3 linked regions of the Homo sapiens genome follow. The protein of the gene in region 2 interacts with the protein of the main gene of each other region in a pairwise test. Each region holds a gene or a part of one and is shown on either strand. Other genes may lie near its edges.

The links. The genes of interacting proteins can lie anywhere in the genome.
Region 1: the proteins of SERPINH1 (region 2) and VCF1 interact in binary tests that used the Homo sapiens proteins (3 or more experiments, as listed by UniProt).
Region 3: the proteins of SERPINH1 (region 2) and IDH1 interact in binary tests that used the Homo sapiens proteins (3 or more experiments, as listed by UniProt).

Annotation. Positions count from the first base shown.
Region 1 is NC_000017.11:73,222,268-73,229,779, reverse strand, and holds part of VCF1 (protein VCF1), read left to right. Parts: intron 1-162; exon of another isoform or gene 163-532; coding exon of another isoform or gene 533-543; intron 544-2,066; exon of another isoform or gene 2,067-2,124; coding exon of another isoform or gene 2,125-2,144; intron 2,145-2,515; coding exon 2,516-2,615; intron 2,616-7,512.
Region 2 is NC_000011.10:75,557,998-75,565,764, reverse strand, and holds the start of SERPINH1 (serpin H1 isoform 1 precursor), read right to left. Parts: upstream 3,513-7,767; 5' UTR 3,446-3,512; exon of another isoform or gene 3,387-3,445; intron 3,293-3,386; exon of another isoform or gene 2,749-3,292; intron 2,039-2,748; exon of another isoform or gene 1,995-2,038; intron 1-1,994.
Region 3 is NC_000002.12:208,251,945-208,259,924, reverse strand, and holds the start of IDH1 (isocitrate dehydrogenase [NADP] cytoplasmic), read left to right. Parts: upstream 1-4,853; 5' UTR 4,854-4,986; intron 4,987-5,466; exon of another isoform or gene 5,467-5,582; intron 5,583-5,621; exon of another isoform or gene 5,622-5,894; intron 5,895-5,965; 5' UTR 5,966-6,039; intron 6,040-7,980. UniProt on the Homo sapiens protein: Catalyzes the NADP(+)-dependent oxidative decarboxylation of isocitrate (D-threo-isocitrate) to 2-ketoglutarate (2-oxoglutarate), which is required by other enzymes such as the phytanoyl-CoA dioxygenase.

The DNA of each region.
Region 1 (7,512 bases), on a different chromosome or scaffold from region 2:
TCCCCTGCCTCAGCCTCCCAAGTAGCTGGGATTACAGGCACACGCCACCACGCCCTGCTAACTCTTTTGTATTTTTAGTAGAGACAGGGTTTCACCATGTGGGCCAGGCTGGTTTCGAACTCCTGACCTCAAGTGATCTGCCTGCCTCAGCCTCCCAAAGTGCTGGGATTACAGGTGTGAGTCACCGTGCCCAGCCCATACTCTTAAGATTATTTCTATGCCGAGTCTCTAGGAGATGACAGGAAGGTTGGAGAGAAATGAAATAATGCAACGTGATGGAATCAACCATCTGTAGAAGTAACAGATGCTAACTGGTAATCTGCACCTAGATGGTTAGGGAAGAATATAATCAGTTATAGGGGTGCCTGCTAAAATCATAACCTGGTCTGTGGCATTAATGCCAAAAATTGTAATCTGATTGATTGAACTGATAGGGATGAGCATGAAGCTGTAATCTTGCCAGTTGTTAACACCATTGTTGAAAGAAGAATGTTTCAAGGATGAGATCTGCTAAGAGCCTAGAAAAAGGCAAATGAAGAGCAGGTAGGACTCTTTCTTAATCTGGTACCATCCAGAGGAGAAGGCTACCAACAGGCCAAAGAGATTATTCTGGTGCCTTGAGAGATCAAGTAATTTATGAGGCAGGGATATTTCATGTGACTCTCCCAGAGATTAGTTGAAATCCACAAAATCATCTCATCTTTTTTTGTTCTTACAGTCCCTCTGCCATGCAACCTCCTTGACATTCATAGTCTTGTCCCTGGAAAGATCTATCCCCCATTATAAATGAGGAGATAGCAAATTTTGATCAGGCTCCTAAGTTTGGTTAGAGTGACTCAGCAGCCCAAAGCCCAGTCAGCTGTTGGCACGCTGATAAAATGGGTGTGTGAGGACCAGCAGCTGCTACTTACTCAATGACTTTCTCTTTGGGTGTCGACTGGCCTCCCAGCAGACATTGCTTTGCCTCTGCAGAACACTCCCACTCAAATTCCCTGATCATATTAGGATGAAATTAGCAGTTTCTTGGTTCAAATTTATGATAAAAGCACACCCATTTAATGATTATTAAAACCTGATATTCATCTATTTTTTTTTAACCTCCAACTACTTCAAAGTAATGTGCAGCTAAGATCTGATCTCCTAAGAGAAAGGTGGGGAGCAGAAATGTCTTAGAATGAAGTAAATTACATAGCCCAGTGCAGGATGGTTGAAGCTTTATCAGAACCACACACTCTTTATTATTCCAAACTTAAGCTGGGATCCATACTCATTATTAAAGTTAGACCTATTCAGAATGTTGCAGAGTACAGAGAAGTGAGCTTAGGGTGATCATTTATTTTCTCTAATATTCAAACCTCAACTCAAAACCTTTAGGATTAAAGGCCTGCCACTGTAAGCCACCCTACTCTCATAGAAAGTGTATAATTATTTAGAAGACACTATATCCTCCAAATGTACATGCTTTCCAAGAGCTGTGTGTCCACACTAGCCTTTTGTCTCTTAACTATAGAAAGCTGAAACTTCAAGGGTTTTGTAATAGGTGCTGCTGCCATGTACATACAGACCTCTAGCCTGTGCTGCTCCGGAGAACGTTCTGCAGTGACGGAAATGTCCTTTATCTGTGCTGGTCAGTGCAGTAGCCACTAGCTACACGTGGCCACTGAGCACTAGAAACAGGGCAGCTGTGACCTAGGAACTGGATGGTTAATTTTAGTTAATTTAAATGTAAATAACCATATGTGGCTAGTGGCTACCGTATTGGACAGTACAGTTCCGGGCAATTTGACTGAAAATTATACCTCCTTTAATTTATTTCTGTTTTCTAACAGGTTCAGAAATCGTTTTGACAGCACATAATTCTTAAATAGAGTACATGCAAATTTGGTCTTTCTTGCATGTCCGAGAACACTTGCCTAAGAAAGATGTGTGATTTTTCTTTAAACCTGGAAATTTTAAGCAGCTTATGCTATCATCTCATAGTAACAATCTAGTGAAGTAATTGTTATATCATAATACCGGCTAGTGTTGCCAGAATAAGCAGGTGAATGTGACCAAGAGGTACTTTTATAAGGGTTTTCAGGGCAAATAGGCAAAGGCAGCCACTCTTATATCAAATGTTGTCATATGGAAGGGAGTACAATTAGGTAACTCGGAATCCTAATTTCAGGGAGTGTAAAAAGAAGAAAACCTTAATTAGGTTAGAGGTTGAAAGCTTAGTCATTAACCTCTTCCTGTTCTTGTTTCAGTCCCAACAGACATTTAAAATTGTTAAGCTTCTTTTTAGAAATGAGTTTTACTAACTTAAGCTTGACCTCGCTGCTGCTGTCTTGTATTTTTGCTCTTAGTGTCCAGTGATGCTGTACTTCCAACTGATAACCTATTGGGATATCATATGCTGAATTATGTTTTCTCAGGCCAGAGGGCAAATTTATATGTTGTTATGGTTTGCAATTCAAGTGTCCAAAACATCGGTTGTTTGGGTTTTTTTTTTTTTCTCCTTGTGATTTAATTTCAGGAAAAGGAGAAGGAATGGCAACGAAGAAGACAACCATCTTCCCCCCCAGACCAAAAGAAGTAGCAGAAACCCTGTCTTTCAGGATTCCTGGGACACAGAGGTAGGAAGTGTGGTCACATAGTCTGTTGTTTTCACTGCTTGAGTTAAATAACCTAGTATCTGCTGTGTAATTAAATTTACTTAAACAGTAATTTAAAATGACCTTAGTTGATTATACTGGTTTAACCTTTCTGTTTCCAAATCAGGGTCCCTTTGAGGAAGCTGTGTACCCTGTCCCCAGCAAAACAGTACATATGTGCACATAGTCATATATGTACACACTCATTTGTATTTGTTAGAAATTTCGTGGCTTTTTGAAAGCCTATGTTTGAACTCACTGTTTTGTATTTCAGCAGCGAACTTCTTTTCTGGTAGTTTATAAACCATGAATTGTCCTTAAGATAAACATATTTTGTTGCTTCAATTCAAATGCCTTTTAAGAGAAACTTTAAGCATGTAAAATATGTAAGGTATGTGTATGCAGAATCCCATTTCTCAGTGTTTTTACTTTTCATTATCTTGTTGTGAAAAGAGCTCCTGTGGTGAGAGGGAAGGGGAGTTGGGTGTTCTGGAACTTTTTTACAATTTTTGATTTCATGAAAGAGTGCTTCAGTACGCAGACTGAGGATACATTTTCTGTGCAATTGGAAGGCTGCTCTGTGCTGGGGAAAGGAAACCAATATAAAGTAATGCTGCTATTAAGTTATGCACCTAGAGATTTTGACCCTTAACAGTTGTCACACTAAGAGAAAAGCCTCAACAACAAAGAGCCCTAGCCTCATAACTCACAGTAGAATTCTCCCACACCCAAATAATTTGTACTTTAATTAGTTCCTGATAATAGGATTTGACCTATATCCAGTCTGTCTTTGCCAGCAATTCAAAGTAACTCCCCCAAGGGGGAAAAATCAGGAACTTTCATGTAGGTAACAGTCATTCAGAGACAGTGAACAAGTGCAGAGTAGAATCCTTCTGTGTGGAGACCTGAGTTTCTATAGCTGTTTTTCCTCTTCAAATATTTTCCTGGCCGAGCGCAGTGGCTCATCCCTATAATCCCAGCCCTTTGGTAGGCCAAGGTGGGCAGATCACGAGGTCAGGAGTTCGAGACCAGCCTGGCCAACATGGTGAAACCCCATCTCTACTAAAAATACAAAAAATTAGCTGGGTGTGGTGGTGCACGCCTGTAATCCCAGCTACTTGGGAGGCTGAGGTGGGAGAATGGCTTGAACCCAGGAGGCAGAGGTTGCAGTGAGCTGAGATCGTGCCGTTTTACTCCAGCCTGGGCAACAGAGCAAGACTCCGTTTCAGAAAAAAAAAAAAAAAAAATATATATATATATATATTATATATATATATATTTTTTTCCTATTTGCTTTTTTCTTTTCTTTTTAAAAAATGATTATCAGAAAGGTAATTGAGCTTTGTTTAATGTAATAGTTGGGAATCTCAGGGATGAAAGAAAACAAGATTAGAGGCTACCATGAATATCTAATGATAAAACCCTGTAATAGTAATTGAGTTTCCATTCTTTTGAATTGTAAGACTATTCATTAAAAGAGTATGCAAAGATTACTTCTATGGTGTTGGCCATCAGTATTTCCTTACTTGTGTCTGTATGTAAGTCCTGCTATATGATGTTCATTTCAGTCAAGGGTATGGTAGGTCTAACTCTCTGTATTAACGTTTTTTTCCCGTATCTGCCAGTTTTGAAGCCTGAGAACAGCAATAGAAATTGCCATCTTTTTCTTGCTTTTGTCTCTTGGTTAAAAAAAAAGAAAGAAATTGTCATCCTTTTTTAAAAAAATTAACATTTCTGATCTCTTAAGTAAGGCAGATATTGTAGATTTTTAAATTTTATTTATTTATTTATTTAGTTTTTGGTACAAAATGACCTTTACTCTCTTTCTAAAATCCGTGCATTGGTCTCACAGAAGAAAACAACGTCTTGTTACTCAACCTCCTGGGTTCTCTAGCTGAGCTTGTCCTTACTTGTCCAAAGAAATTCAGTTGTTGAGCCACTCCGTAATCATTATCTGAAGGAAGGACTAGATTGTCTTCCTTATCGTTTAAGGTCATTACTGGTAGTTTCTGTCTGAACTCACTGGTAGATCACCTAATGGGGTGTTACAACCATTAGTTTCAGCCTTGCTTACTGAACATTGACCAGAATAGCCTGCTGTGCCGTCCTGTGCTGTCCTGTCCTGTCCTATCCTATGCTGTCCTGTCCTGTCCTGTGCTGTGCTGTGCTGTGCTGTGCTGTGCTGTCCTGTCCTGTGCTGTGCTGTGCTGTGCTGTCCTGTCCTGTCCTGTCCTGTCCTGTCCTGTCCTGTCCTGTCCTGTGCTGTGCTGTCCTGTCCTGTGCTGTCCTGTCCTGTCCTGTCCTGTGCTGTGCTGTGCTGTGCTGCGCTGTGCTTCCTGGCAGTGGTATTAACAAGTAACAAGGACAAGTGAATGATGAGAGAGCCAGAGAAGCAAAAGGCAGAGGGAATATCTTTTAAAATGGAAAGTTAAGCCCCAAATAATGAAGTTTTCACTACTGGAATAAATGATTATGTTTGTAGCAGCAAAAAATCAAGTTTAGGGACATTTGGCTGGTTTTTGATGATTGTGTATAAAAGGGAAAATAAAACAATTCATTTTTAATTATATTAACAATTTAGACAAAATATTTTATTAATAACATTACTAATGAAAATGTTTTCTTTTAATTCTGAGGTAGGGCCATGAGGTCAGTTTCCTTGAAACTTAAGTTATGTAAGAGAAACCATTTCCTATGTTTTCCCTGAATGAATAAGCTTTGTCACCCAGACTGGAGTGCAGTGGTGTGATCTCAGCTCACTGCAACCTCTACCTCCCAGGCTCAAGCAATACTCCTACATCAGCCTCCCAAGTAGCTGGAACTACAGGCACATGCTACCATGCTGGGTTAATTTTTTAAGGTTTTTTTTTTTTTTTTTTTTTTGGAGAGACGACGTCTCACTATATGGCCCAGGCTGGTCGTGAACTCTTGGGCTCAAGCGATCCTCCCACCTCAGCCTCCCCAAAATGCTGGGATTACAGACTTGAGCCACCATGCCTGGCTAGAATTCCCTTCCTTCCTTCCCTCTGTTCTCCCCTCCCCTTCTCTCCCCTACCTTCTCATCCCCTCCCCTCCACTTTCTTCTCTTCCCCTCCTTCCTCTCTTCCTTTCTCCCTCCCTCCCTTCTTCCCTCCCTCCTTTCCTTCCTCCCTTTCTTTCTTTTCTTTCTGGCAGGGGCTCCCTCTGTTGCCCAAGCTGAGTGCAGTGGAATGATCATGGTTCACTGTAGCCTCAACCTCCTGGGCTCAAATGATCCTTCCTCTTCAGCCTCCTGAGGTGCTGGGACTACAGGGATGTGCCACCAAACCTGGCTAATTTTTTTAATTTTTTGTAGAGACAGGGTCTTGCTGTGTTGCCCAGGCTGGTCTTGAACTCCTGGCCTCTGACCCTCCTCCACTGGGCCTGGCCAAATTCTTTTTCTTATTTTCTTTTTTTTGTTAACCTGGCTGTTTAAGAATTCTTTTTCTTATAACTTGAACTTCATGAGGAATTTTTTTTTTAATTCTAAGAGAGATTTAAAAGTTACTTACAATTCATTTCTAAAAGTTAACCTTTTTGCTTAAGTACAATAATAATGGCGAGTACTAGGAAATATGTGAGGTGTTTTATTTATGTTAAACCATTAAATTGTGCCACAAGTAAATCACAACTATCTGTACAGTGGAGATAATAGTATCTGCCTCTTCTTTCCTAGATACTATAAAGCTAAATAATGTGAACTGATTTGCCGGATTAGTTATATAGAGAGAAACTTCATGTGTGCATAAATTAATGTGTGCATAAATGGCTTCTTTCCCCCATTTTATTTTTTTATTGTTTATTGTTTTTTGAGAGGGAGTTTCACTCTTGTTGCCCAGACTGGAGTGCAATGGCGCAATCTCGGCTTGCCATAACCTCTGCCTCCTGGATTCAAGCGATTATCCTGCCTCAGCCTCCCGAGTAGCTGGGATTACAGGCATGTGCCACCACACCCTGCTAATTTTGTATTTTTAGTAAAGGCAAGGTTTCTCCATGTTGGTCAGGCTGGTCTTGAATTCCTGACCTCAGGTGATCTACCTGCCTTGGCCTCCCAAAGTGCTGGGATTCCAGGCGTGAGCTACCGTGCCCAGCCTGTTTTAGTAGGTATTATTATCTCCACTTCTCAGATGGAAAACTTGGCACACAGAAAAATAGTCACTTGTCCAAAGAACACAGCTAGTAAGAGGCAGAGGAGGAACGGAGCCCCAGGGTGTGGTTGTTGGGCTGCACGCTCCTGACCATGGTGTGTGCTCTCCCAGAAGATAGAACAGAGGTTCTGCGAGACTTTGCTAAATATATCCAGGAGCAGCTAGAGCCTAGTCTTCTCTTTTTTTTTCTTTTTTTTTTTTTTTGAGACAGAGTTTCGCTCTGTCACCTAGGCTGGAGTGCAGTGGCATGATCTCAGCTCACTGCAACCTCCACCTCCCAGGTTCAAGTGATTCTCCTGCCTCAGCCTCCTGAGTAGCTGGGATTACAGGCACCCGCCAGCTCGCCCAGCAAATTTTTGTATTTTTAGTAGAAATGGGTTTCACGATGTTGGCCAGGCTGGTCTCAAACTCCTGACCTTAGGTGATCCATCCGCCTTGGCCTTCCAAAGTGCTGGGATTATAGGCGTGAGCCACCGCGCCCAGCCCTAGTTTTGTTTTGAGTCAGGAACAGAGAAGAACAATTTTCCTTCTCTTTTTATCTAGAAGCTGTTTTTTCCAAGTACATGGCATGATATGATCTTAGCTATAAAGCAATTTTAGATTTCTAGCAAGAAAAAAAACAAAAATGTGGTCTTGTGTTTTTTTTTTCCAAATCTCTGATTAGTGCTTGAATTGAAGACTTTGAATTTTAACTCCAGTAACTTGGACTTAAT
Region 2 (7,767 bases):
GACAGAGCCGGAGGGCTGCCCCGCCCCCATGCCTTTCATTCTGCTCTGGGATGTTAATGAGTCACCAGTTGGGTCACTCATTAAATGGGGAGCCAAGATGCTCCACTTTGCTGCCCCAAGGGTGACCCTGAGAGTGTGTGTGTGTGTGTCCTGTGTCCACTCAGCCTCAGTCTCCCTTTTCCAAGCTGAAAGGTCCAGGTCTCCATGCCCATGGCTTCTGTCTGGGCAGGAACTTGGAATGCCCATCTACCCACAGTGCTCCCAGTGCGGATGGGAAATCCCCAGGACAAAAGCTCCTGGGGGACCAACTCCTTTGAAGACTCGGTGGGGCTGGGGAGGAGGCTTCCTGACATAGCACAAGGACAGGATACTAGGGAAAAGGGTGAGTCACACATAGCTCAATAGAGCAGTGACCCCCTTCCCCATCACCAGCAGCTGGCCAGATGTGCACTCAGCCTTCAAAGAAGCTGGAGCCACATCAGATTCCATTCTGCCCTCCAATCTGACAGCCACTGCCACACAGGCCATCTGCTCCACGGCTTCAGGGTTGCCCTCAGGCCTCCTCCCCAAGCCCCAGCAGTAGCAGTGGCCCCAAGGACAAGCCCCAGTTCCCTCTCTGGGGCCTCCAATTTGGACAGTCTCTGTTCCTGGGATACTTCCACACTCCCTCTCTCCCTTCGGGCCATTATCCTCCTCTACATCATGCAACAGCACAGGAGAGATGACAGGGCAAAGGGAAGGATAGAAGGAATCCTGGTGGAGGCTGCGATCCCACTGCTCTGGTAGATCCCAACTTGTAGTCATCCTTGAAGAAGACCGAACATTTGAAATCCTGGTGGAAGACCCTCAGGACTCTGGCTGCCTGGGGACCACTGTATTTCTGGGAAGATTCTACTGCTGCCATCCCAAAAACCTGGACAGGCTCCCCATCTCCCGGGACTGCCTCCCTCCTCGGAGCCTTGAAGGTGCAGTATAAGATAAGCAAAGGGTCCAAGGGGAGGGAGGTGGGGAGAGGAGGGAAGGCCCAGAGATCTAAAAATGTCTGGAAGGAGCGGGGAGATCTGAGTCTCACCCTAAAATGAAGGGGATATCTTGGGGCCTAGAATAAACCCCAAGACACCTCCCTCCCAGCTCTGGCTCCTTCCCTGCCAGAACTGGAGCCTCAAAGGCAGAGCAACCATATAATTTATTGCACAAACAAGGACACTTATAAGAGTAAAATGGGCACTACTAATTATTATGCCAGGACAATAGGCATATGGCCACCCTACTCAAAAGCCACCTCTGATCCAGACCAGTGATGCTGGAGCTCAGACCACAGCAGAGGCCAACAGCCTTCCTTCCCTGAGGAGGCAGCTGAAGAGCCCACTCCCAGCCATGCCACGTGGCAGGTACCATCTTGACAGCCCCCACCCCCACCAGCCAGAACCTCAAAGGACTGGGAGGGGCTTCTCAAGCAAGCTCCAAATAACTGGTTTGGGATTCCTCAGGCAGCCCGCTAGGCCCGCAGCAGCTTAGCGCCTGCTCCTGGTGGTGACGTGGCAGGCAGGAGGCTGAACTATCTCCACCGGCCGGCAGAGGGGGGCTTCCAGCCTGGGAAGCAGGCCTGACTCAGGTCCCAGGGGGTGCCACATATTTGCCAGGGGACTCCAGGAGCCTTCTTGGCCTTAGTTCCCTTCCCATCCGCACATGAATCTCTGAAGGGAAATGCGCTACTGGGGAGAAGGGCAGCCCCACTGAACCCAGCAGCAGGAATGGGGGAAGGCAAGTTACTGCAAGCAGGCCAGCCTCCCACAGCCCAGCCCATCTTGCCACAGAGAAATGCCAGCCCTCAGGCCAAGGTTAGCTGAGTTACAGTCCCACAAAGAAAATACAAGATCACCTAGCCAGGGCTGTGCCCACAGCTAGCTGGACTGAGCAGGGTCTGGAAGGGAAGGGGAGGAGATGATGGGACCCCACCAGAGGGTCCCAAACACTTGAGAGGTCTAAAGTACCTGGAAACTGCCTCAGAGGGAGGTCAATGCCTGCCTTTTTCATTCTGAAAGAAAACAGAAGAGTGAAGAGGGCGGGAGCCGGCAAAGGAGAGATGGTGAGGAGGCCCCTGGCGCAGAGGGCACAACCAGTCCCCAATCTACAGGGACCTTGGAGATCGACCACCTCACTGTAAAATGGGAGAAACAAGGCCAGGGCAGGGGGTCACCCCAGGTCCCTCGGGATAAACAGGGGTCTGCCTTCCCAGCACAGGGGTCCTTCCTCACAGAAGCACAGAGCCCCTCCTGAGGGCTGCATGCGGTGTCCTGTTACACAGCCAGTACAAAAAAAAAATCTCTGCTGGGAGTCCCGGTGACAGAGGAGACAAAGGAGAGGACGGGAAGGGGGGATGGGTACATGAACCATCTGAAGACAGGAGGGTGTGGCCCCGGCCGGAATTCCGGAGAACCAAAGCCCCCTCATTTTCCTCAGGCCTCCATCCGGGCCGTACAGCCCAGAGGGACCAGCGGGAAACAAGGAAGAGGAGGGGCTGAGACTCTGGGCCAGTCTGGAAGTGCATTCATTCTCCTTCCTGCTCTTCAGCCACCTCAGGAATGTCTCTAAGCTGGGGGGCAGGGAACCCCAGCCTCTGGAAGTTAGACCCTGCAGTTTAAACCCTGCAGTTACTCCAAGAACCCTGTGGCAGTGGACAGAAGGAAAGACTCAAATCCTTCTAGTCAGCCCCTTAATCCCCAGAGCAGAGCAGACCCTGCTGACCCCCACTCTCTTTTTTCGGAGTGGTAGGGAGCCTCGCTGGCCAAGTCTTTCCTTTGGCTGCCATCATCTAGGCTGCAAGCTGCTGATCAGAAATTGAGCCACTGTCGCCCACTTCTACCAGAGCACACGGACCCCAGGAGTCGAGACGATTTCACCTCCTTTCCCACCACCGGAAGCTCAAATTCCCTCAGCAAGCCTGTGAGGAGGCTGGGCCACCAATCACCGCTGCCCCTGAGCCTCAACCCCAGAACGGAAGTGACCTGGAACTGCGAGGCCGGCCTATCCTCCCTACCCTTGCGGGAAGAGGCACCAGACCCATCTCCTTCCTCCTCTGTTTCTTTCCGCAGAGGCTCTGCTCTCTGCCCCCAGCCCCCTTTACACAGCACCTAGTCTCGTATCTGCCACCACCACCTTTTAGGGGTCCCTGCACTTTTTCCCAGTCCTCCGAGTGCACGGACTCCCAACCCGGCTCCGATCTCCGCCCTAGCCCTCAGCTGGCACCATCACTGGCTAGCCCTGGGCTCTCGATTCCAAACCCTCCAGCGGCCCCCAAAGTGCCGAGGACTCCAATTTGTAGGCTCTGGCTCGGCACCCAACGCTTCGCAGGGTCCCCTCGCCCCTCTTACTCCCTCGCGCACCCCCAGATTGCTCGGCGCTCCCCCGGGCCGCACGCACGCAGGCGTCTCCCGCCCCTCACCTGGGTCGGGCTGGGCTAGCGCCGGGACGTGACTCTCGCTCTCGAGCCGCGACACGATTCTACTCTTAGCCCGCTCCCCTGCTCCCGGGATCTATATATGGCAGTCCCCACCCCCTCCTGCCCGTCCCGAGAAACTTCTGGAAAGTTGGAAACGCTTCCGGAGGGCGCCCCAGCTCCGCCAAAAAAAGCCAAAGACCTCCCTCAAAACCTCCCCGGCCCCCGGCCCCTCCCTCTGCCGGCGCCTCCCGGCCCCTGGGTCCTACTGCCTCCCTCGGCGGCCCGGGCTGCGGGGCGCCGGGAGTCCCCACGGGGATCAGCGTGTCCTTCAGAGTGCGAGCTTCCTCCCACCCCCAGGCTCTCTGCATAAGCTAGCCCACTCCGAATCGCACGTCCTTTCAGGCGCCCCTTTCCCCGCAGGGGCTCTGCCCCAAGCAGAGCCATCTCCCCTTCTCCCCGCTCTCCCCCATTTTCAAGCTGAAACAATTGAGTCCTGTGCACCCCCTCCCTCTCAGGGGAGACGTTCAGGCTTCTGAAGGCAGTGCCCTTCTCCATACTTGTACATTCAAAAAACCTCAACCTCAGCGATGGCCAGAGGGAGAGGGAGCAGACCAGACCCGGTACCTGCCCGGCACCCGGAAAGTTCAAGTCGTGGAGTAATAGAGGCAGAGATGCCTGGGGAACTTCAGGTGGTCTGGCTGGGCTTGGAGGAGTGCACAGGAAGGAAAACCTGGCTCTCCACTGAGCAAGGTGCTGTGTGACCCTAAGCAGGTTACTTTCCCTTTCTGGGCCTCTGTTCCCTTGGCTGTGAAATGTGGTTCTAAGGCATCCCTTGCTTTTTTTCCCCCCTCTCTCCCTTCCTCAATCCTTGTCACCCCTGGCCCCCTCCCTATTGCATCCCCTCCCTCTTTGGGTCCCCTCCCACAGGCCTCAGGTCTCACTGTCAATTCCTACCCCACCCTCGCAAACTGATAGCTCCTTGACCTCCAAGTTAAGCTAGGGTATTCATTACTGTTCTAGGTGCTGAGGACACAGCTGAGAGCTGAACAAAGTCCTTGCCCTGTGCGATGTCCATCTGTGGGGTATGTACCTGTTAGTAGGGAATTCAGTGATTCAGTGAGGCAGATTATTTAGGAAACCCTAAATAATCTGGGCGACAGTGGCTCAATTTCTGATCAGCCGAGGCTCCCTACCCTCCGAAAAGTCCTCTTTAGTAGTTTAATGATAGCTATTGGATGGACGCAGTATGGAGAGGAAGGGACAGGGTAGGGACTCTTCATTCATTCAGTCATGAATGAATGCATTGAGTATCTTCTTTCTTCTAGGTGCTTGCCTGGATCCTGGGGAGCAAAAAAATCCCAGTACCCAGCAAATGAGTCAATCACCTGGGTCCCTGCCCTCTGTTAGTGGTTGTGGGGAAGCCTGGTGGTGGTGACAAACCTCTCTGTCTGGGTAGGCTTCTGCAGCTCAGAGTCTTTTGAGTACAAGGACTGTGGGAAATCTCAGATCCCAAAAGCTTCAGACTCTGTGATTCAGGGTCAAGGAATCAGAGATTACTTCCACTCAAAGCCCCCAAGGAGTCTTTGAATCCAGCTAAGGAATCTTAACATGTTAAAATCTCAGAGTCGAAGGATTCTGGAATAAATGTATTAAAGACTCTGAGCTGCAAGGCATCTCAGAGGTCAGGGGTTCCTGTCTGCAGCCCCAGGCAGAAGCCCTCTTCTCAGTATCCCAAAAAGGCAAGCACCGAGGCACCTCTAAGAAGAGAGAGCTTACCTCCTTCAGAGGCAGCCCCGCATTCTTTTTTAGGACAGGTCTGATTATTAACAAAAGCTTCCAGCCTTGGCATGGTGTCCATCTCTTTGGGGTGGCTGTCGTGGTTCTCATGTGCTTCCTCCTGCCTCAACTGTATATTGCTTTTAAAGATAAATTCTAGGCTGGGCGCGGTGGCTCATGCCTGTAATCCCAGCACTTTGGAAGGCCGAGGTGGGTGGATCACCTGAGGTCAGCAGTTCAAGATCAGCGTGGCCAAAATGGTGAAACCCCATCTCTAATAAAAATATGAAAATTAGCCAGCTGTGGTGTCATGTGCCTGTAATCCCAGCTACTCAGGAGGCTGAGGCGGGAGAATCTCTTGAACCTGGGAGGTGGAGTTTGCAGTGAGCCGAGATCATGCCACTGCACTCCAGCATGGGTGACAGAGCGAGACTCCATCTCAAAAAAAAAAGATAAATTCTTGTTTATCCAAGGAGACCTCCCGGGTCCCAGGCCAGACCCCACTCTCTACTCCCACCCCCACATTGGCCCTCAGGCTTCCTTGTGACTTGGTCAGTGAGCTGAGGGCAGGGCAGAGCAGAAACAAAGAGTGCCCATCAATGCTGGCAAAACAGAGAGGGTCGCCTGGGTTTTCAGCAGGTTCAGATGTCACAATCCCAGTGAGACTCCCTTCCTCTACTCTCTTACATCTCTTAGCTCTTTTAGGCTTCACCAACACCTGAGGGGGAGACTGAGAGTGCTGTGACTGTCCCATTTTGAGGGATAAACCAAAGCTCATGCTGTTAAATAGACCCAGTATCATGAGTGGTCACTGAAGAGAGGACCTGCCCTTACAGACAGCAAAGCTGAGGCCTAAGGAGGGCTGGGTCTGAAGGCCCAACCCCCATCCGACCCCCACTAATCTCACACCGGGTCAGAAGCCTCCTCTGTGACCTATCCCACTGCTGCATTATCTCTGTTATCACCCTGTATTGTCAGTGAACCATCACTGGAGACTTTGGAAGGGCAGGGCCTTTTCCTTGTCACTGTGAGTCCCCAGCTCCAGCAAGGGGACAGTATGGAAGAGGCACTGGGTAAGCATGGCTGGCCAGGGGATGAGAAGTGGCTGCCTGAGGCTGCTGTGCCCCTAGCACAGCCTCCCTGAAGAAGGGAAAGCAACGGCTCCTTTAAATTTCCAAGATCAGCAAAAAAAAAAAAAGTCAAGAGCCTTTGCCACAATATTCTTAGCTCTGAGCCCAGCCCAGACTGACTGTGGCCCTTCCCCCACATTCCAGGCAGAGCTTTCCGGAAAAAGCACTCTTTTAGGGGGTGGGGGAGAAGAGTCTGATAAGCAGAGAAACTCTCAAGCATTTTGTCTCTGGACTCCTCCAGTGCCTCGCTTCACTGAAGGAAGTGGTCCTGGTGCCTGGCACGTGGAGGCTGGCTGGAAATCCTCTAGATCCCTAGGTCCCGAGAGGTGTGGACAGCAGAAAGTAGAAAACCATCAAGTCCAACTGCATCCACACTATACAGAGAGGACAACGGAAGCCCAGAGAGGGCAGGAATTTACCCAAGGTCACACAGCATATCAGAGGTGGGGCTGGGCTGGAGCCTAAGCCCTGGACTCCCAGCCCTCTTTCTCCCACAGTACCCTCTAATGACCCAGGGGGGTATGTAGGCCCAGTTCTGCCAGGTGCTGTGGAAACAGCTTTCTTTGGCCCCAGTGGCTAGATTCACTCAGTCTTCACCCCATAGAATCCTAGGACAAAAACTTGCATGTCATTTAAGTGTGCAACACATTCACATTTATTATCATATTTATTCCTTTCAGGTAAGGAAGAATGTTCCAATTTTCAGCATGAAGAAACTGAGGATCAGGGAGACTAAGCAACAGGGTTAAGGGCACACAACAAGCCAGAGTCAGAGCTGGGTTTTGAATCAGGTCTGTTTATGCCATATCCACGGGAAGGCAGGGAGTGGACGAGAAGGAAGTGACATTTATGGGCCATTTTGCCGCTGCCAGGCCTGTGCTGGGCACCGTCATTAGTGTCTCACTTTTAATTATAGAACGTTAATCGGAAGGAAGTTTAATCCCCTTCTTTTTACATTGGTATAAAATTGGAGCCCAGAAAGCTCCGACAGCCAGTCCAGGGTCGGCCCCCTCCCTCAGGGAGCCAGGGCTGCTATAGGCAGCTCTTCTTTGAGATGCTGTCCAGGAGCCAAGAATGTGCTCTCAGCCCAAGGCATGAGTCAGGAAAACACGATTTCTGTAATCTTGGATTCTCTCTCTTGGAGCGTGGGGCCTTCCATCCAAAAAGGGCTGTCCTGCGTGCTGCCACGTTGGAGGGTGGGCAGCCGGTCCATGTGGGGGTGGGTGGGCACATGATTCCTCCCCTCCTCCTCCCAGAGCAGGCCCGCCCCTACCCGTCTGCAATCCTGGTGCTGAGCGAAGCCACATAGGAACTCCAGCGCCTTCACCCACATGCCTGGCACAATACCCAGGAGACACAAGCCCACTGACTCGCTATATACACAGGCGTATGTGCACCCACATACATGGTGCACACACG
Region 3 (7,980 bases), on a different chromosome or scaffold from region 2:
AAAGTGCATTCAAGAGGTTTTCCTTTTGCCAAAATTATTTTCAGACCCTGTCTTTTTCTTTTAATCTCTCTGTAGTACTCCCTCTTTTTTGAAAACTTTCTTGTCTGTTGGCTTCTATGACATCAGGCTCTGCTGATTCTTTGTTAACCCCCAGACTCTCCTTCTCATTCTCTTTGTGGGGGCTCCTTTTCCTCTACCTGACCTTTAAGACGTAAGTGTCCCTCAGAGTTCTCACTGAGATTGACTTTTCTCCTTACTTTGAAGTCCTAGATAATATATACTCTGTCTTCAACTGTTATCAAGACATGCTAAAGATTCCCAAATTTCTTTCTCCAGCCCACCCTTTCTGAACTGCAGATGAGGCCAACTGCCTCCTGGACATCATCTTGCTGTCCCATGGCATCGCAAAGTTAAGAAACCTTAAACTTAACCCATGATCTTGGCCATCAGATCTGTGACTCTATGTATATTCCTTCTTTGTTGAACTGCACCTTGTCTCCCAAACTCCAAATTCAGAATTCCCTTTTGCCGTTCTCTCTCTCATAATCTTCATGGACAATCAATGACCAAGCTCTATTCATTCTACCTCAGTTTTTTTTCGATAATCAAAATGAAAATACAACCACATTAGAATATTTATGAGAATCCCATTATCTGGATGAGTGTGTCAAAACCAAATGCTTACAGAAATTTCATGGCCTGTGTTTCCATTTGTGTTTATAACAGTATTTGGGGCCAGACTATTAAAATACTCAGATTCTTTTACTGGCTAAATGAAAGACAAATGATGTCAACACATGAAATATTAACCAAATAGAGAGGGGTGCTGGGCTAAATGAACCATCATATGTCATCCAGTAAAATAGGCCGGCTATGTAAAAAAGAACGTGCACATGGCCAGGTGCGGTGGCTCACGCCTGTAATCCCAGCACTTTGGTAGGCCAACACTGGTGGATCACGAGGTCAGGAGATCGAGACCATCCTGGCTCACATGGTGAAACCCCATCTCTACTAAAAATACAAAAACAAAATTAGCCAGGCGTGGTGGTGGGTGCCTGTAGTCCCAGCTACTCGGGAGGCTGAGGCGGGAGAATGGCGTGAACCCGAGAGGTGGAGCTTGCAGTGAGCTGAGATTGCGCCACTGCACTCCAGCCTGGGTGACAGAGCGAGACTCTGTCTCAAAAAAAAAAAAAAAAAGAACCTGCACATAACCAGTGAACTTCATCTTCCCATTTCAAGAAGTAATTTAATTTCAGCTAAATGTTATTTGTTGTATTTAAGTGATATTAATGGTGATGTATTGTTTTCTACTTTTCTTTCTAGTCATTTTATCTATAAATTTTTTTATTTTACAGTTGTATGAGCTGTCAGCCTAAGGAGCATATATCTAGTTTTATGCATATTTATAGCAATATTTTAATGTCAATCCTAGGGATCTGAAAAATAATTTTTTTAAGAGATAGGATCTCGCTTGGTTGCCCCAGTTAGAGTGCAGTGGTGCAATTATAGCTCACTGGAGCCTGCAGCCTCGAATTCTTGGGCTCAAGTGATCCTCCCACTTAAGCCTCCCAGGTAGGTAGAACTATAGGCGCAAGCTTGCCTGTCTAATTTTTGTTTGTTTGTTTGTTTGTTTGTTTTGTATAAAGAGGGTCTCCCTATGTTGCCCAGGCTGGTTGCAAACTCCTAGCCTCAAGCAATCCTCCTGCCTTGGCCTCCCGAAGTGCTGAGATCACAGACTTGAGCCACTGCACCCAGCCAGATTTTTCAGTGGAAAATCAACTCCTCCATTACTGGCTTAGGAAACACTGTTTTAGATGCTGAGACTCCAATAACTGCCACCTTTACTAGTACATTGGCTTAAAGCCAAATTTGCAGCCATCTCTAGCAAGTGTTTAGGATTTGATATAACATGTTTGATGATTGAATTTGCCTTGGTTCTATATAACATCCTATAGCTATTCATTTTTTAACCTTATTTTTCTCAATTATAGTCAATGTTTTTATTGTGCTATATTTGATGTGTTTTTATGGCTGCCCTACATTATTTTGGGAACAAGAAAGGATATGAATGCTTACTTTCGGTAGGGAGAAAGGGGTAATAAGCAATGTGAACCTGATATAATATAAAGTAATTACAGTCTCAGGTGTCTTAGGGCATCAGATTCAAGATGAAAATTAAGAGTGGAGAAAAGAAAGGGAGATCAGATTGTTACTGTGTCTATGTAGAAATGGAAGACATAAGAAAGTCCATTGTGATCTGTACTAAGAACAATTATTCTGCTTTGAGATGCTGTTAATCTGTAACTTTAGCCCCAACCCTGTGCTCACAGAAACATGTGCTGTATTGAATCAAGGTTTAATGGATTTGGGGCTGTGCAGGATGTGCCTTATTAACAGTATGTTTGCAGGCAGTATGCCTAGTAAAAGTCATCACCATTCTCCATTCTCTGTTAACCAGGGACACAATGCACTGTGGAAAGCCGCAGGGACCTCTGCCCAAGAAAGCCTGGGTATTGTCCAAGCTTTCCCGCAACTGAGACAGCCTGAGATATGGCCTTGTGGGAAAGGAAAGGCCTTACATCCCCCAGCCTGACACCCGTGAAGGGTCTGTGCTGAGGAGGAGTAGTGAAAGAGGGAGGCCTCTTTGCAGTTAAGAGGAAGGTTTCTGTCTCCTGCTCGTCCCTGGGAATGGAATGTCTCAGTGTAAAGCTGACCATTCGTTCTATTCTGAGATAGGAGAAAACCGCCCTGTGGCTGGAGGCGAGATATGCTGGCAGCAATACTGCTCTGTTACTCTTTGCTACACTGAGATGTTTGTGTAAAGTGAAACATAAATCTAGCCTATGTGTACATCCAGGCGTAGTACCTTTCCTTGAACTTATTCATGATACAGATTCCTTTGCTCACATGTTTCCTGCTGACCTTCTCCCCACCATCACCCTGTTGCCCTGCCACACTCCCCTCGCCAAGATAGTAAAAATAGTGATCAATAAATACTGAGGGAACTCAGAGACCAGCGCTGGTGCGGGTCCTTGCACATTGAGCGCCAGTCTCCTGGGCCCACTGTTCTTTCTATATACTTTGTCTCTGTGTCTTATTTCTTTTCTCAGTCTCTCGGCTCCACCTGATGAGAAATACCCACAGGTGTGGAGGGTCAGACCCCCTTCAAAAAGCTCATATACCTCTCTAAACAGTTCTACAGGAATAAATGGAGGTGGCTGCCAATATCCCTTAAGCCACCTCAAAAACCAAGTTGACAAGGTGTATGCTTTTTTCTTTTCTCTCGGGAAAAATACCAGTGCCCTCTGGTGTCCAAAGTGCACCTTGAGTAGTACCACGTAGATCAGTTTATCTTCAAAGAATAATGTACTAATTCAATGTTAGAGATAATTTTTTAAAATAAATTTTGGAGGCTGGGCACGGTGGCTCACGCCTGTAATTCCAGCACTTTGGGAGGCCGAGGCAGGCGGATCACTTGAGGTCAGGAGTTCGAGACCAACCTGGCCAACATGGTGCAACACCGTCTCTACTAAATACAAAAATTAGCTTAGCATGGTGGCACACCTGTAGTCCCAGTTACTTGGGAAGCTGAAAGAGGAGAATCACTTGAACCCAGGAGGCGGAAGTTGCAGTGAGCCGAGACTGCACCAGCCTGTCAGGGCAAGACTCTGTCTCATAAATAAATAAATAAATAAATAAATATTGGAGCATTAAATTCTGGGCAGCAATATACAAGCATGCTATTGTCCTACAAATCACAATATAAAATACTCTTTATTTTCATGTTTTTGAGAGCAATGAACACACAAAATATAATCTCTGGAGGAGACTAAAATTCTTTTTTCAATCCACCGTTTTCTAAGGCTTCACATCTCTAGTCCAACTTCATTGGATCACAGATAATCCCCCGCCAACTGAGCATGGTGGCTCACGCTTGTAATCCCAGGACTTTGGGAGGCCGAGGAGGGCCAATCACTTGAGTCCAGGAGTTCGAGACCAGCCTGGGCTGCTGAAACCCATCTCTACCAAAGGAAAAAGAAAAGAAAAGAAAGAAAGAAAAATTAGTTGAGTGTGATTGTGTGCACCTGTAATCCCAGCTACTCGGAAGGCTGAGGTGGGAGGATCTCTTGAGCCCAGGAAGTCAAGGCTGCAGTGAGCGGTGATCGCTCCACTGCACTCCAGCCAGGGCAACAGAGCAAGGCCCTGTCTTAAAAAAGAAAATAATAAGAATCCCATTCATTATCTTCTAATGCAAACAATCAATGGAGTTTCTAAAGACCTAGACATAGGTGGTGTCAGGACCTGCTTCTGTAACTTTTCCATCCTTTGCATTAGGCAGCGCGGAACCCCCTAGGCGACCCCGCGCTGGCCGGGAGCACTCTTTCTTCAGCCAAAGGTACGTTCCATTACCGCCCCTCGGGGGCGCGCTAGGCAGCGGGCCGGCCAAGCTGCCGCCGCCCAGGGCGCCCTGTCCCGTTCGCTTTTGTGCCGACCTGGAAACACTCTGTGGTGCTCTAGATTGTTACAAAGTTCGGGGTGGTGCAGCCCCAGCGCGCCCCGCTCCCCGGCCTGCAGGTGGCATACAAGTCTCTTCGCTGTCGGGATTCGGGACTGAATCTCTGCCGGGCGGCAACCCCTTCCCCCACCGGGATCACCGGGAAAGTGGCACCATGGATTCTCCATCTTTGACTGTGGCCACGCCCCTCTCGCTGACTCCGCCCATCCCACGGGAATTGGCGTGTGGCGATTGGAGGCGTGTCGGGGGCGGGGCTGGGGGAGGTGGGCTGAGGAGGCGGGGCCTGGGAGGGGACAAAGCCGGGAAGAGGAAAAGCTCGGACCTACCCTGTGGTCCCGGGTTTCTGCAGAGTCTACTTCAGAAGCGGAGGCACTGGGAGTCCGGTTTGGGATTGCCAGGCTGTGGTTGTGAGTCTGAGCTTGTGAGCGGCTGTGGCGCCCCAACTCTTCGCCAGCATATCATCCCGGCAGGTAACCTCAGGCTCCAAGGGGCGGCCCCGGTCCCTGGCTGTGGAGGGGTGGCTCTAATTCCGCAGAAGGCAGGAATGGGGTAAAGGAAAAAAGCGCAGATCTTGGGTGTGGAGGGAGTCAAGGCCTGCGTGCAAAGAAGGGAACAAATCCAGGTATTGAGAATGGGAAAAGAAAAGGGAAGGAGGGGATGCTGGATGCTTGGATATGCAGAAGGTCTGCTTTTGGGCCTGGGAGGGAGAAACTGGGCGGTGAGGAAGTTGGATGCAACGACAAGGGGAAAATCAGGTCTGCACTTGGGTTGGAAAATCGAGGGGTGGAAGTTGCAAGAATGCATGTAGAAGACTAAGCCTGGAGTGTAGGAGGAAGAAAACGTGCAGCAGCTGGGGGCTGGATGCAAAGAAGGCTGTAAGCCGCAGACGGGCGTCTGCAGGCAACTCAGGCGGCGAGGAATAGCCTTGAAGCCGATCCCTCGCGTCCGCCAGGGGGCGTGGAGGGGCGGAGCTCCAGCGGCCTTCAGAGGGGTCGCTAGGCCACACGGGGCGAGAGGGGGCTGGGGGAAACACCCCCGCCAGTTCCGGGTGCCTGGAGTTTAAAAGGTCCCAGCACCAGCGAGGGGAGGGGAGGGGAGGGGCGGGCGTGGAGACCTGGAAGGAGGTACCGATCCAGCCTTGATTGCAGCCCTCTTGCACAACGGCCATAAGGACGGGTGCAGGCCAAGAGCAAGGACATGCAAACCCCAAGACCTGCTAACGGGCGGCGAAGCGGGGGCACGCCCTCGCACACGCAGAGATAAATTGTGCTCCCATGACCTTTATTTGGAAAGTGCCTGCGGGCCTAAAATTGGCCTTTGTCCCACCGAGTACACTCAGCACTGTACTTTAAACCGGATAAACTGGGCTGTCTGGCAGGTACTAAAAACAGCTAAATTCTCCTGTGAGTGTTCTGTATGTTAACACTTTTATTCCTTGTTTTGTTTTAGGCGATAAACTACATTCAGTTGAGTCTGCAAGACTGGGAGGAACTGGGGTGATAAGAAATCTATTCACTGTCAAGGTGAGAATTAGCAAATTTTCCCCCTTCTTCTGTACTTTCTTTGATGTGGCAGTACAGTGTTTAACTGGTCTTGGGGGCAGGCCGAGGCACTGCAAGGGAATGAGTGAGGAATATTTCCAACAACGAATTCCAACAGCTTCCTTGTTTCTTTTAATACAGTGTCTTATCTGCAAGAGATCCTTTTTGCCCAGAAATTATTGTAGTTCATGAACTCGGCAAAAAACAATCTGGCCAAAAACTTGAGGTTGATGAAAATAATATTAAATGGCTCTTTTTTTTCATTAAACTACTCTGTATTGTTATTCCAGGTTTATTTTCTGGAATTGCACAATTATGTTAGGAGATAGGATTCAGCTACTTCATATGAGCTGGTGCCTGCTGGTCTTGGAACAGCCCTTCCTTCTGAAGTTGGGATTGGGTTGGAGACAAAATCTGAGGGGCAACAAAGGTGGAGAAGTCAGTCCAGTGGGGCCTCAAGCCCATCCCATGGAAATCAGATCCAGAAGAAATACAATTATGTTCCACATGGTAGTAACAATAAAGCTTCACTGTTTTAGTTAAAAGATGGTAAAAATTTCATGGCTAAGTAATGTGAGGAAAACCTGAAGCGTCTGAAGTATGCATTATGAGATAAAGAAAGATTACTGCAGAGAGTACAGTTGCTTTAACTGAGAAGGAAATAGTGAACTAAAAAGATATCAGTCTTCACATTTTAGGTACAATATTTGACCTCTATTAACTGTATTTGCCATCAAGAATAAATTGCCATGTCATGACTGTTGCATCATACTATATAGGGACATGGCCATGGAAGTGTATTATCAGGAACCAGATAAGTTCACTGCCTCCTTTTTTGCTTTGTTTTAAAACAAGGATAGGTGTGACAGTGGAATCAAACATGAACTGAATCATATGCTTTCAGCTGTACTACAAATTATACTTGACATTACAAATGGGAAGTAATTGACTCATCCACACCATTCTGTTCATTTCTTTTAGTCTAGTTCAGTTCCAGAAGGTTCCCCCAAAGGAATCTCCTAAACACTAGTAAGAAGAATTCTAGAATTGCGAATTTGGGAAGTGAAAATGGGCCTGGGGATTGGAAATACATCCAGGCTTGTCAAGAAACAGACGCTTACTGTCTACTAATCATTACATTTTTATTTAAAGACCAAATTACTTTAGCTCAATTTTTCAAGAAAGACTATTTTAGGCTTCTTATCTAATAATTCTTTAAAGTCAATTCTCTTGACTTTTTTAGTCCTTAAGAGAATAAAAGCAATTTGCAGCTGTGTTGTTGGATTAAAAAAGAGTTTCGATTAGAGCATCATTAGAAGGAATAGATAACTTTTAGCAGGCTCAGAGCTTCTTCTGCCTCTAGGGACAAGCTGGGACAGTTTCATTTCTTCCAAAGCGTCCAACCTTGCACTTTCTGAGAATCAGATTGATTTGTATATGCTACCCCCACACCCTATCCTTAAAGTGCTGTCTTCCTAGGACAATGCACAGTTTGTCCTATCCCACTCACTAGCAGCTTACCCTTGCCTGTGAACAGCCAGAAGAAGATGACAGGGACATGCTTGGGTCCTGGGCAGTGGCCCTACTGTATAGAGATTCTTCTAATTGAGAAATCACTTTGTTGTATTTAGCCCCACATCTCCAATGTCTGTGTTATCTCTAGGAAAACAGTTCCACCAGGAATTCTTCGTCTCGCTTTTAGACTTAAAGTTTCCCTGAATATGGGTCACAGGAACCAGCTGAATCTCCTCATGGCTAGTTATTTTTATTAAATAACAAAAACAGCCTCTTAAAGGAGGAGAAATGCTAGCACTCACCATTCTGGACATCTTGAGAGCCCAGTAAAATGATGAGTTGGACTGAAGTGTTCAATAAACATGAGATTGTGGAAATAATCTCATTTCTTAAGACAAACCAGTAGTT